Regions from separate parts of the Homo sapiens genome. Here region 2 is linked to region 1. Evidence: fine-mapped expression QTL. Tissue or cell type: esophagus muscle. Region 1 holds a variant in brackets; the other region holds the start of a gene. All regions are shown on one strand. Distances are between the middles of the regions.

What was found. PIP is the estimated chance that this variant, and not a neighbour inherited with it, causes the effect.
Region 2: CMTM7 starts here. The variant in region 1 is fine-mapped to the expression of CMTM7 in esophagus muscle (GTEx, PIP above 0.99).

Annotation. Positions count from the first base shown.
Region 1 is chr3:32,578,604-32,581,282 of GRCh38, forward strand. LOC124906226 (a long non-coding RNA gene) reads left to right here and starts at 105. Exons shown (of 2, transcript XR_007095860.1): 1 at 105-142; 2 at 389-1,006. The variant C/CTTCT (reference allele first, on the strand shown) is at 1,195.
Region 2 is chr3:32,390,830-32,393,508 of GRCh38, forward strand. CMTM7 (CKLF like MARVEL transmembrane domain containing 7) reads left to right here and starts at 1,024. Exons shown (of 5, transcript NM_138410.4): 1 at 1,024-1,236. The coding sequence starts at 1,078.

The DNA of each region.
Region 1 (2,679 bases):
GCTCTCGCTCGCTCTCGGCACCTCCTCTGCCTGGACTCCCACTTTGGTGGCACTTGAGGAGCCCTTCAGCCCACCGCTGCACTGTAGGAGCCCCCTTCTGGGCTGGCCAAGGCCGGAGCTGGCTCCCTCAGCTTGCAGGGAGGTATGGAGGGAGAGGCGCGAGCGGGAACCGGGGCTGCGCGCAGCGCTTGCAGGCCAGCTGGAGTTCCGGGTGGGCGTGGGCTTGGCGGGCCCCGCACTCGGAGCAGCCGGCCGGCCCTGCTGGCCGGGCAATGAGGGGCTTAGCACCTGGGCCAGCGGCTGCGGAGGGTGTGCTGGGTCCCCCAGCAGTGCCGGCCCACCGGCGCTGTGCTTGATTTCTCGCCGGTCCTTAGCTGCCTTCTCTCAGGGCAGGCCTCGGGACCTGCCGCCCACCATGCCTGAGCCTCCCCGACGAGCGCTGCCCCCTGCTCCCCGACGCCCAGTCCCATCGACCACCCAAGGGCTGAGGAGTGAAGGCGCAGGCGCAGGACTGGCAGGCAGCTCCACCTGCGGCCCCAGTGGGGGATCCACTGGGTGAAGCCAGCTGGGCTCCTGAGTCTGGTGGGGATTTGGAGAACATTTATGTCTAGCTAAGGGATTGTAAATACACCAATTGGCACTCTGTATCTAGCTCAAAGTTTGTAAACACACCAATCAGCACCCTGTGTCTAGCTCAGGGTTTGTGAATGCACCAATGGACACTCTGTATCTAGCTAATCTAGTGGGGGGCCTGGAGAACTTTTGTATCTAGCTCGGGGATTGTAAATGCACCAATCAGCAGCCTGTCAAAACAGACCAATCAGCTCTCTGTAAAACAGACCAATCAGCTCTCTGTAAAATGGACCAATCAGCAGGATGTGGGTGGGGCCAGATAAGAGAATAAAAGCAGGCTGCCCAAGCCTGTAGTGGTAACCCACTCGGGTTTGATTGCCTACTGGGGAAGGTTTGTTTTTTCCTTCTTTGCAATAAATGTTGTTGTTGCTCACTTTTTGGGTGCGTGCTGTGTTTATGAACTGTAACACTTACTGCGGAGGTTTACAGCTTCCTTTCTGAAGTCAGTGAGACCGTGAACCCAGCAGAAGGAGGAAACTGTCTCAGCATCCGAATGTCACAACGAGCAAATCCACGTGCGGCGCCTTTATGAGCTGTAACACTCACTGTGAGGGTCCACGG[C/CTTCT]TTCTTTAAGTCAGTGAGACGAAGAACCTGTCAATTCCAGACACATCAGCACAGAGAGATGGAGAAATACCTAAAAGAAAGTAGAAATAGACTCTTTTAACGTGTTTGTTTTTTCAGAGAAACCGCCAGAAAGTGCCCGGGGCAGTGGCTGTCGCCTGTAATTCCAGCACTTTGGGAAGCAGGAAAGGGCAGATCACTTGTGGCCAGGAGTTCAAGGACAACTTAGCCAACACTGTGAAACCCCATTTCTACCAACAATACAAAAATTAGCCAGACATACTGGGGCATGCCTGTAATCTCAGCTACTCAGGAAGCTGAGGCAGGAGAATCGCTTGAGCCTGGCAGGTGGAGGCTGCAGTGAGTCAAGATCAAACCAGTGCACTCCAGCCTGGGCAACAAAGCGAGACTGCACCTTAAAAAAAAAAAAATGCTTTTATTTTTACGTCTAATGTGAAATCCCACCTTTCTTAAAAAAAAAAAAAAAGTACTGGTAGGTGTATGTGTGCATGCAAGTATACTTTAGGACAAAATTTTACAAAGAAATATTTTTTTGTTTGGTTGTGGTTTGTGTTTTTGAGATGGAGTTTCACTCTTGTCATCCAGGCTGGAGTGCAACAGCTCGCTCTCGGCTAACTGCAAACTCCGCCTCCCGAATTTAAGCAATTCTCCTGTTTCAACCTCCCAAATACGTGGGATTACAGGAGTGCATCACTGTGCCACCTAATTTTTTTGTATTTTTAGTAGAGACAGGGTTTCACCATGTTGGCCACGTTGGTCTCGAACTTCTGACCTCAGGTGATATGCCCACCTCATCCTCCCAAAGTGCTGGGATTACAGGCGTGAGCCACCGTGCCTGTCGAAGAAATTGCTTTTCATTGGCTTAGAAATGTATCATTGAGAAATAACCGTCTCTGAATATATATTTTTTAATTCCAGGATAAGGTAATAGTAGAATTGCCTTTCATTTCAGACTGAACTTCTCACCACAATATCCATATTCATTCTTGGAAAATGGATGATGAATGGAAGGATAGTAACCTATAAAATCAACTCATACAGCAGCTTGAGTGGGCAAATTATGTTAATGTTAAGTGAGATGCACAGGGAAAGCAAAGACACTTGTCTTTTAGGCTGGAAGCATTCTTTAAGTGTTTTAATTATCTACTTACACATTTTTCAATACTAAACAGATAGGAATTTTAGGGTGCTTAGTTATCATTGTTTTAATCTATTCTTTGCCACTGAAAAGAAGAAAGAAAAAGGTCCACTGACTAATGTATTGTTAATTGCATATTTATTATACATATTTTTGGAGGATCTAATTTTCTTGTAATCAAATACTCCGAAGTTCAAGTCCATTACCTTTATTTAGTGATTTTAGTACCACTTAGTTCTCAGATTTCCAGTGTTACACTCTACTGCCCTCTTTGCTTCCTAAAGGAAAAGATATTTAATAACTAATTTTATAGATTGAGATCTGCCAAC
Region 2 (2,679 bases), 190 kb before region 1:
GAGCCACCGCGCCCGGCCCAGCTAATTTATTTTTATTTTTTGTTTTTTGTAGAAATGAGGTCTGGCCATGTTCCCCAGGCTGACAGCTTCTAACAGAAGCAAACATATGCTCCCCTTGTAACCAGTGCGTTCACTTGCAGATATTTGTCCCAGAGAAATGAGAGTTTGTATCCACCAAAAAAACGTGTACCATAATAGTGACTATAGCCAGAAAAGAGATGAGGGAGGGGGGAAAGGCCGGAAGGAGGGAAGGAGGCAGGCAAGCAGGTAGGAAGGAAGCAAGCTTGGTGTCCATCAACTGGGTAAACGTTTAAAAAATACGGTATCTTTGCACAGTGGAGTACTACTCAGCAATAAAAAGGAAGGAACTGATATGAACTACTTATATTCCCAACAGGATGGATCTTCTAATTTGTTATGTTGAAGGAGAATATTCTGTATTACTTCAAGTTTATGAAGTCCAAGAACAGGCAAAATGAACCTACAGTGACAGAAAGCAGAATACACTGTAGTGGTTGCCTGAGGCTGGATAAGGATGGGGCCAGGGAAGGAAGGTAGGTCAGGAAGGCCCACCACGGAACTTTCTGGGGTGATGGGCACGTTCTATTTGTTGATCTGGGCGACGGTTACACAGGTGTACACATATATAAAAATTAGTGGAGCTGAACACGTAAGGTCTGGGCATCACACTTTATGTAAGTTAAACTTCAGTAAAGTGCTCTCAGCACACATCCGCAGCCGCACCCACACAAAATCCCAGGAGGCTCAGTACCAGCTGTGGTCCGGGCCTTGCCCACCTCGGAGAGGCCACGACCCAAGGCATCCGGTTTCCTCTCGCTCCAGTCTAACTTCCGCGCATCTACGAGGGCCGGGACTGCCGCTACCTTTCTGGAAGGCGCCGGCCGGCCAGTCACCGGAGGGATCCCGCCAGAGGCGGCTCCGCGTCTCCAGCAGCGGGGCAGGGACCCGGGCGCCCCGCCCTCGCCAGCGCCCGCCCCCGCCCGCCCCCGGCCCGCCCTCTGTATCTGGCCCCTGGGCAGCTGCCCGGGGAGGCGGCCAGCGAGCTGGGGCCGCGCAATGTCGCACGGAGCCGGGCTCGTCCGCACCACGTGCAGCAGCGGCAGCGCGCTCGGACCCGGGGCCGGCGCGGCCCAGCCCAGCGCGAGCCCCTTGGAGGGGCTGCTGGACCTCAGCTACCCCCGCACCCACGCGGCCCTGCTGAAAGTGGCGCAAATGGTAAGTGAGCGCGGGGCGCGAGGCCGAGGTTCTACAGGGCGTCCCGGGAAAGCAGGGGTCCGGGAGCGGACGCGCCGGGCGTCTGGACCCGGCCGGAGCCCAGGGAGCATCGCGCAGCGGGCGGGGCACCGCGTCGCTAAAGTTCGCGGCAGGCTTCCTCCGGGAAAGTTGCTGCCGCAGCCCCCGCGCTGGAGCTCAGTCCCCAGAGCCGCCCCGGCCCTTGCTCCCGCGGACCCAGGTCGCCAGGGTCGCAAGTTTCTCCGGCCACCCCCCTGCGAAGCCTGACCCGCCTACTGACTGAAACCACGGGCAAAGTTCCTTTTCGTCTTTCTTCCTCTTCTCTGGGCCGCGCCGCTTCGAACCCGAGCCGGGGGTGGAAGAGTCGCCCAGGCGGCGGCGCTGAGGGAGCGAAACCCGACCTCTTCCCCGTCCACGGCCTCCTCTTTCCTCCGAACCCAGCGCGGCAGGGCTTCCCTGCTCTGTGTGCAGTTTCGCTCGAAGGAGGAGGTCAGAGGGTCTTGTGTTCCATAGTGGGGAAAAAGAACTGGGACCGTTGAGACGGCCGTCCTGGTCCCCTGCGCCCTCAAGTTCCGAGGGAGGGCCCGGGTCTCAGGGGGCTCTGGAGGGCAGGGGGTCAGTTGGGAAAGGCCTGTTGTCAGGGGCTGGTACTCATGTAGGGGAGCCAGACTGTTGAATGGGAGTCACCCGTGGAGCCAGGCAGGATGAGTGTCTGGGCTTGGATTGTGACCAACTCAGCACAAGGGCCTCCTACCAGGGCAGACGTTGCCTGGCCGATTCTCTTGTTCCCCACTCTTTTCTTTTCTCCCCTCCCGTTTTTTTCTTCTTTAAAAGTTTGTAATCTGAAACAACTTTTCCGTTTGTATGATGTGTTTTGAAACTGGGTTGGGCTGTTTGTGAGTCTCCACCATTGTAATGTTTGCACCAAGAACGGTGGGGAGGGGAGCGGTAAGTTTCAAAAAGAGGTGTGGGGAAAGGAGTGTGGGGCTGGACAAGGTCACACACCCAGAAGCTGGGGCCTGCTAAGGTGGCCTGGCCCCAGGGGGTTGGGCACAGGACGTCTGTGCATCTATAGCACTGCCATTCCAGACACTGAGTGTGCATGAGGTGGCCCTCATGTCTTGCTTGGGCCAGACCTAAAGAGAAGGGGCGCTGAGTTCCTGCCTCCCTAAGAACGGTGTCTAGATAGACCAAAAACTAGGAAGAGCCATTTCAGCAACGTACAAAAAAATCTGGTGCTGAGCATTGTTGGGTTTGAGCAGGGCATTTTTTGGCCCAGGCTAAGAGATTTGATCAGCCAAATAGAAGAGACCAGCCCATCTCACCATCCTTAAAAGATGGGCTGGGGTGAGACATATCCTACCTGAGCATTGGAAGGGATGAGTTTGGTAGACAGAGAATGGGATCAGAAGCCTCCATCTTGGC